Regions from separate parts of the Homo sapiens genome. Here region 2 is linked to region 1. Evidence: fine-mapped expression QTL. Tissue or cell type: prefrontal cortex. Region 1 holds a variant in brackets; the other region holds the start of a gene. All regions are shown on one strand. Distances are from middle to middle.

What was found. PIP is the estimated chance that this variant, and not a neighbour inherited with it, causes the effect.
Region 2: it holds the start of NUP35, and the variant in region 1 is fine-mapped to the expression of NUP35 in prefrontal cortex (BrainSeq, PIP 0.95).

Annotation. Positions count from the first base shown.
Region 1 is chr2:182,339,690-182,344,689 of GRCh38, reverse strand. The region is part of intron 1 of PDE1A (phosphodiesterase 1A); the gene reads left to right. LOC124907915 (a long non-coding RNA gene) reads left to right here and starts at 2,227. Exons shown (of 2, transcript XR_007087329.1): 1 at 2,227-3,881. The variant C/T (reference allele first, on the strand shown) is at 2,278.
Region 2 is chr2:183,121,391-183,126,517 of GRCh38, reverse strand. It overlaps NUP35 (nucleoporin 35), which reads right to left and starts at 2,075. Exons shown (of 9, transcript NM_138285.5): 1 at 2,021-2,075. The coding sequence starts at 2,060. LOC124907917 (a long non-coding RNA gene) reads left to right here and starts at 1,561. Exons shown (of 2, transcript XR_007087331.1): 1 at 1,561-1,725; 2 at 1,811-2,601. RefSeq lists an enhancer at 1,257-2,025.

The sequences.
Region 1 (5,000 bases):
ACAAAAACCTAGTACAGACACTATTACTTTAAAGATGCAAGCAGTTTTCCATCTTGCAAAGGTAAAGATAGAAATACACTTTTGGTACTGAATATTTCTTTGTCCAGAAAATAACCATAAGTATTGACATAATGGTAAAGCAGAGGCCATGACTACAAGTGGAGGTGTTAAAAAAAGCCAAGATGAGTCGAATGCTCTGCTCTGAGTGATTGTGTATAAAATAGTATGGAGTCTGGAGACAATCAAATTATGTTATAATTAAGTACAATAGCTAGGAAGATTGAAGCCAATTTGCAGCCATTAGTAAGAGCAAATCAACATACAATGTATTTGTGTATACTTATAATCCTGAGTTTTCATTTTAAAATATTTGTTCATATTTTCTTTGTAAACATTATATATATTTCATTGCATATGAATAAGATTCCCTATATTCATATATTTTATAGTATGATGCAAAAATATAAACAATATTTTCAATTAAATTTCAGTGATGGCTTCAAAAATATTGATTAAAAGGCCAGGCTTCATTTCTCATGCCTGTAATACCAGCACTTTGGGAGGCCAAGGCAGGAGAATTACTTGAACCCAGGAGTTTGAGACCAACCTGGGCAACATAATGAGACTTTGAATCTACAAAAAATATTAAAAATTAGCCAGGCATGGTGGCGTGTGCCTGTAGTCCCAGTTACTTGGGAAGCTGAGATAGGAGGATCACCTGAGCCCAGGGAGGTTGAGGCTGCACTGAGCTGTGATTGTGCCACTGCACTCCAGCCTGAGTGAGAGTAAGACTCTGCCTCAACAAAAAAAAAAAAAGAAAAAGAAAAAGATTAAGAGATTACTATGTATTTGGACATAGTAATGTGGTCTTTGGATATTCTTGACAGAGATAAAATATGGTCGATGGTCTTTGGATATTCTTGCCAGAGATAAAACATTTAATATCTTAATTACTAAATATAAGAAATCATAAATGGTAATATTGTAATTCTGGTACCACAATACCCAATTTAATTGTTATCACAATTAATTGATAAGTATATTGCAAAAACACAATAATAGTTTAGAAGACATAGACCTGTATAAAATGCTAACCTTGTCAATTAGGCTGCAAAATGTTTTAAGTGTAAGAATTTTTAGAGGTTGGAGCAATTTTAATGACAAATTTTCTAGTTGTTTTCTTATCTTAGAAGAAACATATTATACTAATATTGTAAGAATAAAATTCAAAGATCACCTAGTTAGGTCTGCTGCTTATGGCATCTGAAAACCTTCAGAATTATTTCCTATTTAAATTATGTATATGTACTGTGAAGTGGTTAGTTGGTATAGTGCTGTATATCTATTAAATGTTAGCCAGGGAATAAGGTGATAACTATTAACTCTAATTTATAGTGAATAAGCAGGAATTAGACCTGCCTGCTTAATGTTAAATTTCCACCAAAATGCCCAAACAAAACAACCTTGAACTGTGACTATACCTGAATTGACCGTGTCCTTGCAGGTGGTGACATTGTAAATTGAATTATGCACACTCTAAGTGGATGAACTGATTCATGCAGAACATTCAGGTGTCAACCAATGAGTATTATGGGCCTATTTGTATATAAGACAATGTATCCACTCCATAGTCCAATTATAAAACATAATTATAGTTGCATTTATTCTTCATATGCAGTTTGTACATGTATTCACACACAAACATATGTGAACGCATGTATGTGCATATACATATTGTATATTCACCTTATCCTGCATAGGAGTCTAAGGGACAGAGAAAGTGTCTTATTATTCTGGAGCCCTGAACCTCTCTTCAGTATAACACATTAGAATCTCTAGTTATAGGTATGAAAGAGTCTATTGACTTTCTTGCAAAAGAGTTCCATATGAAATTATGTTATGTAATATGGTTCCATATAAATGATGACTATTTCTATATTTTAAATAGAAAACTCAGTATAAATTAACTTAGTTTTTTTGTGTGTGTTTGTTTTGTTTTTCATTTTTGAGACGGAGTCTCGCTTTGTTGCCCAGGCTGGAGTGCAGTGGCGCGATCTCAGCTCACTGCAACCTCCACCTCCCAGGTTCAAGTGATTCTCCTGCCTCAGCCTCCTGAGTAGCTAGGACTACAGGCACGTGTTACCACGCCAGTCTAATTTTTTGTATTTTTAGTAGAGATGAGGTTTCACCGTGTTAGCCAGGATGGTCTCCATCTCCTGACCTCGTGATCCTCCCTCCTTTGCCTCCCAAGGTGCTGGGATTACAGGCGTGAGCCAC[C/T]GTGCCTGGCCTATGTTTAGGTGATGTTTTTTGCTTCAGAATCTTTGAAAAATCTTTCTTTACAACAAACCTTCATGACACGTGCTTACCTATGTAACAAACCTACAAATATACCTCTGAACTTAAAATTTAAGAAACAAAAAATACTATATAAAAACAAACAACAACAACACTTTCTGATTTGTCTACCAAGTCTGGTCCAGGTATAGTACAAAGAAGTGAAATGTTCTCAGCCAAAACATAAAAGATTGTTTAATAGTTATAAAATGAACATTTAACACAAAATTTCTGGGAGCAAATATGAGAAAATTCTGCTAATATATAAAAGATAACTATAGAAAAGGGCCGGGTGTGGTGGCTCATGCCTGTTAATCCCAGTGCTTTGGGAAGCTGAAGTGGGAGAGTCACTAGAGGCTAGGAGTTCCAGATCAGCCTGGGCAACATAGCGAGGCCTGGTCTCTACAATAAATAACACTTTTTTAAAAAAAGTAGCTGGGTGTGGTGGCGTGTGTCTGTAGTCTTAGCTACTGGAGAGGCTGAGATGGGAGGATTGTTTAAGCCCAGAGGTTTGAGGTTGCAGTGAGCCATGATTGCACCACTACACTCCAAGCCTGAATGGCAGAGAAAGACCCTATCTCAAAAAAAGAGGATAAAGAAATTTTACCAAATTTGTAGCTTATTCAAAGAAAGTGTCACATGTGAACACAATAAAGCACCAGAGTAAGAATAGCTTTCTCCCTATCAATTGCTCACTCAGTGAAGTTACAAAGAAAATTTCATAAGTAAGAGCTTATGCTTTATGGGGGTGATGGATAAGATAAAACTGCATGTCACACCTGTTTATCAAAATATATGACCAGGCCAGGCTGGAGTTTCTGGGGCTGCTGAATCTTCAGGGAAGGGAACTATGAGGTAGATTGGAGTTCCCATATGAGTGTACCATGGGACTAAACAAAGACGATTAACAATGGGGATATCTTCAAAGATGACATTAAAACAGTTATTGCCACAAATATTGCTGTTTTTATAGTTAGAAATTTAGAAAAATAGCCTCTGTATACAAGCACAACTCATACAAATGACTTCATCAATAGGATGCTGTGGATGAGGAGTTAGAAATCTTGGCTTCTTGAGCCAGATTGGCTACTTCTTGGTCTTGTAATTTAGATAGGATCCCAAATCGCTTGAATTTTGCTTCTCTCCTTAATAAAATGAAGGGAATTATTCATGTCCATGTTCCTCTCTATAACGTTGTGAGAATTGGGATTGAAAGTGTTGATGTTTATAAGAGTACTTTGAAGGAGTAACATACTATTGAAAACTTAGGTTTTATTATTAATGAACAGCCAAATTCCTGTATGCTCAGCACCATACTAAACAATGCCAGAGCATGTTAGAAAACAGTTTACACTTTCGAAGCTTCTAGGAGGAAATAACACTTTAAGTCAGAGTCCAGAGAACAGGAAGACACCTTAGAAGTTAAATTACGTATCCAAACTCTCCATTTTACAAATGAGAATTCTGAGACCTAGAAGATCCGTTTGATTTATCCATGATTCTACAACTAGCCTGGCATAACCAGGCATCATGACTCTAAAGGAGAGGTAAGAGAAATTCTCTACAATATATCCATTTGATCTGTTAAAACATTCATCATCATTAAATTATTTTTAATACCCAGATTTCGGTTAACTTCCTTCTGTTTTAACATCAGGGCTACAGAAAAGCTAGCTATTGTCCCTTACATTCTAGCTATTTAATTTATATATAACATAGTCATGCAATTTTCACAGAAAACCCTTTCTTAACCACTTTTCCTCCTACTTAAAAATCTGAAGATGCTACATGTAGTTAAGGGCTAGCTTCTCTTTTGTATTCTGTTTCTAATTTCAAACTTCCCATTTTCTGCAGTTTTACAAGAGGTATTTCATGAAGTGAGTTTTATGAGACAAGGTGCCCTTGGCTTAGTTTAATGCCACATGAGAAAGGAGGTGTCGGAACCCAAAATAGCCTTTAGAAGCTTTATTCTTCAGTATTCATTTCACTTGGAGGCTCTTTGAAAGTTTTGACAGCAAACTAGTCTTCAGTGATGAGAGCAGGCATTACCCATGCAGAAGTTATGGTGGTGAATTTTATTAGACATACTTTCTGAAGAATAACATTTAAATTGGATATAATTTGCCTGAAAGCAAATAGAAGTACAGTTGCATATATTACAAATGACCTTAAAAGCAGCCATTTGCTTATTTTGAAACTCTTCTGACAATTTTATAAATCTACAAACTGCATATACTTCATTTTAACGTTTACCTTGGCCTTGTCATAATTCAACAATCCCCATAAATTGTTCTTTAATGAAAGTTGCATTTTACAGTATAATCTCAGCCATCTATGCCCAAACTACGCAGCAAGAGCTTGCTTTATCAGGATTATTCTGAGGCATATTTACATCTCTAGAATAAAGTAGGATATTGAATATATGATTATCATTCCCTTTGCCCTAAGTAAATTGGGTTTAGGACTTTAGAAAATGAAAACTCTTCTCCCTCTTTCACAAAACATAAGAATAATTGCAAAAGTTTCATGGAATCTACATGGAGTAGACCTGCTAAATCAAAATTTCATGGAGTGTTAATATTTTTAAAATGCTCTACAAGAGATTATGAGTGGGCAGGTTTTGGAACCACTGTCATAGATGGAAGTAGAATATTTAATTTCCTCTG
Region 2 (5,127 bases), 780 kb before region 1:
ATCCACTAAAATCAAACCAAAAGTCTAAACAAAAGCATATTCTTAACAGATATTCAGAATACCATATTAAACGCAAAGTTTTTGGTAACATTCACTACATTCACTCCCCCTCCCTAAAAGAAAAAAAAATTATAGCAAAATAAAGTAAGAATTGGCTTAAGAAAAGTTCTGATGTATCTGGATACATACAGACACAGTAGAAGGCGCAAGCCTCTAATCCCAGGATTTTGGGAGGCCGAGGCAGGTGGATCGCTCGAGCTCAGTTCGAGACCAGTCTGGACAAAATGGCGAAACCTTGTCTCTACCAAAAATACAATAAGTAGCTGGGAGTGGCGGCACACTGTGGTCCCAGCCCCTGGGAGGCTGAGGTGGGAGGATTGCTTGAGCCCGGAGGGGGAGGTTGCAGTGAGCTGAGACTGCACGACTGCACTCCAGCCCAGGTGACACGGCTGTGTCAAAAAAGAGGAAGGGAGGGAGGGAGAGAGGGAAGAAGGAAGGAAAAGAAAAAAGAAAGCACCAGACAGGAAGGAGGGCACAATGGGCTCTTAATCAGGACTGTCACCAACCACCCCTCAGGCTAAATTTCACTTAAAGCAAACTTAAGGAAAAGATGCTGCATGTCCTCAATTCCATTTCATATTCTGTGCTCCCAAAAGATACGTACTCAGCTAGCAGTTTGTTGAAGTCAACCCTTAGTTTTACTACACCAGTGGGCACCTGGAATATCTGCAAAATGTGGACTTAAACATTAATACTGGCTAATGTCAGATTTCTGGCAAGGCAATATACAGGGATTGGTTTACTCACATTTGTAACCCCAATAAATATGCACTCCAAAATGTTTTTGTTGAATAGAAAAATTTGGAACTGGAAATGAAGAGTTTTTGATCTCTAAAATACATTAAAAATAAATACCAAGACGACATCTATATATAAATTTTAATGCAGAGTATCTGCATTATTGACATTATGCATTTAGTTTTTTTATGACAGACTAAAGTAGTTCAAGTTACTCTATTCTCAAAAAGAACTTATTTTACACCAAACATGGCAAGCATTACATACCCTTCAAATCTAAAGACTCTTTCCACACCATATATATTACATTTGCTCTCTTTTCCAAGCTCAGAAAGTTATAACCTAACTTTTCAGGTAAGTCTCTATGACAGTAAGACGGTTTATTTTCCGTTCTAAAATTTTCGACGATTCTCACAAGTCGCAAAACTCAGCAGGAAAAAAAGAAATCCGCGTGCTGTTAAAGTGGTAGATTTTTTTCAAAGACGACATATTTCAACGAGGCTCCGCAATGAATAATGGGAATGAATCTTTAAAAAAATTCAGATCGTGACTTACTAGAGAAAAATACCTCCTACAATACTTAAGAGTCACTTTCCCCAAATAAAGGCGGGAAATATCGTGCGAACTCCTAGCTTGCTGTTAAGGTCAATATCTCAATGATTACCAACCACACGGTTGATTAAATGTTGCACGATTCAAGCTTCCATTAATAACAAGATTCCTTTGGCAAAGCCCGGGAGAGAGGAGTCAAAACAGGAACTGGAAGCACCGGTGATCAAGAAGCAGTGGACTGCACCCACACACTTCAGGGCACCGCCCACCCACGTGTACCGCGGTCAGTTCCTCCCAGGGATGCTTCTGGGGACCAGCAACCAGCTGGGAATCCAGCAACCAGCATCGCGTCTCGGGTATCAGAAGGAGGTTAAGGTATGGGCCAGTCTAACGTGGCTGGCGTGTGGGGGCACAAACACAGCTCAGTCACCGCCAGACGGCCTTTTCTTCACCCTCCCAGGGCCCTCAGCTTCCCGGCGCCACCTTTGTAGCAGTATGGAGGCGACGCGTCGAGTAGGGGACCGACTATGAACTTGGGGGCACCCAAGGATTCCCTCTCCGCGACTGAAACCAGCAGACGAGAGCCTGACGACTGCCTTTCAGTCTTGCCCGCCTCCAGGCCCAGAGCATGGATGGCAGTGCCAGCAAGGAAAAGCAATATTTCACTCACCTAACGCGGGCCCCTGAGGTTCCACTGCAAAGGCTGCCATTGCGTCGGCAACTACACTTAAAACCAGTACCTTCCCAATTAATTTTCAAAAATGGCGGAAACGCTCCCCACGGGTAACGGCGTGCTACCTTATGGGGTTGCGTAACTTCCGGACCTGCGCTATGCTTAAGTTGTAGGCGCCGGAGCCATTTTGGAATAGGGCAAAGTCTTTGCGCTGAGAATTTCCGAGGAAAGGGTTTTTGCACCGGGAAGGTGGCGAACCAGCGTATGGTTCTGTGAATGCTTTTCATCCGGGAATGCTTCCTGATTTGTGGGTACTTAAGTTACATAGAAGCACAGATTATTTTACTCACGGTTTCATAATTAGCGTGAGTTGACCCAGTGCTCTATCATCGGTCAGCTTTTCTGAGTAGCACCTGGAAAAGTCAGCTTGATGAAAACAGTTGGTGCCTCTTTGCAATGTCGATTTCTGGACTTAGTACATGACGCTTTTTCCTCAAAGCATGTTTTCTACTATCCGTATGCCATTTCTTTTAAATTTTGTGTTATGTAGACAATTTTACATTAAAGCGTAACTCATACGCCGTTTTGTTGCATATTAAAACATACAAAAATATAGCTAACGAACGCATAAAGTACACATGTAAATAATGGAAGATAATTATACGCACCCACGAACCCTCCACACCGCGGAATCTTGCGTGCTTCTGCATGTGCCATCCCTGCCGTCCACGTCCCCTCACTTTGCTGCTTTTCTTTAGGGCATAGTCATACGTAAATCACATACACATATTCTGCATATGTGTGTGTAAAAATATATTGTTTAGTTTTGCTCAAATACTAACTTTATAAAATAATGTGCTACATATGTATAACTGGGGACGTTCTCTGCTCCATACCATGAGGATTATTTCCAAAATATCCACCCATGCTCAGCTATTTCTTCTAGGACTTCCTAAAATCTCAAATGGAGGAAGAATTTTGTCTTTGGAATGAGGCAGTAACAATTCCAGAATTAAATGGTAGGTTCACAGAAATCAAATTTTAAAACCACTCACAGATCGAATTGACTTTTTGAAAATGGGTGTGTGAATTGAATTGTGTCCCTCAAAAATTTATGTTCAAGTCCTAACCCTCATACTTATGAATATGACCTTATTTGGAAATCGGGTCTTTGCAGATGTAATAAAGTTCAGATAAAGTCACATTGGAGTACCACAAGCTCGGTTAACTAAACCAGCACAAATGTATCTCTTACAGTTCTGGAGGCCAAAAATCCAAAATGAGTATTGTAGGGCTAAAATCAAAGTACCAGAAGGACTATTTTCTTCTGGAGGCTCCAGGGGAGAATCTATTACCTTGCTTTTTCAAGCTTCTAGAAGCCACTTATATTTCTTAGCTTGTGCCACCTTCCTGCTTTTTCAAAGCCAACGATGTAGCATCTTTGGTCTGTCTGACACTGCTTTGTTCAGCTTCTGCCATCACATAGCCTTGTGATGACATTTAGGACCCACCCAGGTAATCCAGGATAATCTTACTATTTCAATATTCAGTAGAGGTGATTAAGTTAATAATCACATCTTCAAAATACCTTTTGCCATATAAGGTAACATTCACAGATTCTAAAGCTTAGTGTATGGATATCTTTGGGGAGTAGTCAGCCCACAACACAGGGCAATCCACTTTTTAGAATTAAGCTACCAAGAAAGGTATATCAATGTATAAATTTCTACACACATTGAGGCTAGATGTGGTGGCTCACACCTGCAATCCCAGCACCTTGGGAGGCTGAGGGGTTGATCACTTGAGTCCAGGAGTTTGAGATAGTGAGACCCCACTTCTCTACAAAATAAAAAAGAAATTTCTATACAAATTATGATCTAGCCAAACAAAAGAACACTATACAACAACTAAAATGAATTAGATGGATTTGATATGAGTGTAAATATTAACCTAGAAAGACCTCTGTGATAGATATAATGAAAAAAAGTAATTTGAAAACATGCATGCATATACGGCACCATTTTTATTTAATAACGGGTTTATTTAGGAACAGATGCAGAGAAAGAGAAAAGAGTGATACTTCTTTAAATAAAAGAAGATGTTGAAAAAGATTTGCACCAGCCGGGCATGGTGGCTCATGCCTGTAATCCCAGCACTTTGGGAGGCCAAGGCGGGCGGATCACGAGGTCAGGAGTTCCAGACCAGCCTGGCCAACATGGTGAAACCCCATCTCTACTAAAAAATACAAAAATTATCCGGGCATGGTGGCACATGCCTGTAATCCCAGCTACTTGGGAGGCTGAGGCAGGAGAATCGCTTGAACCCAGGAGGTGGAGGTTGCAGTGAGCCAAGACCATGCCACTGCACTCCAGCCTGGCGACAGAGCGAGACTCTGTGTCCAAAAAAAAAAAAGAAAAGAAAAAGAAAAAGATTTGCACCAAACTATTAACAGTAAAGTAGAAAAGGGTTTGTAAATTGGAGGATTTAAGAATGGCCTTTACACATGTATACATATGTAACAAACCTGCACGTTGTGCACATGTACCCTAGAACTTAAAGTATAATAATAATAATAATAAAAAGAATGGCCTTTAACTTATTTTATACAATTTTGTGGTTGATGACAGGTGTTATTGCTATTTTATTTATTTATTTATTTATTTTGAGATGTAGTCTCGCTCTGTCACCAGGCTGGAGTGCAGTGACACGATCTCAGCTCTGGCACTCCACTGCAACCTCCACTGATTCCCCTGCCTCAGTCTCCCGAGTAGCTGGGAGTACAGGCGCATGCCACCACACCCAACTCATTTTTTTTTTTGAATTTTAGTACAGACAGGGTTTTACCATGTTGGCCAGGATGGTCTCGATCTCCTGACCTCATGATCCACCTGCCTCAGCCTCCCAAAGAGCTGGGATTACAGGTGTGAGCCACCGCGCCCAGCCCTATTTTCTTTACTTTTTAAATTAAAAACTTTTTTCCATTAAGACATTTATTTTCTTTTCTTTACCTGCATTTCAATCTTTTACCCTTTCAACAGGCTCTTTCCTTACCAAGCTATAAAGAAGCCCAGAATTGAAACCCTCCCTAGGCCTTGCTCCTCCAC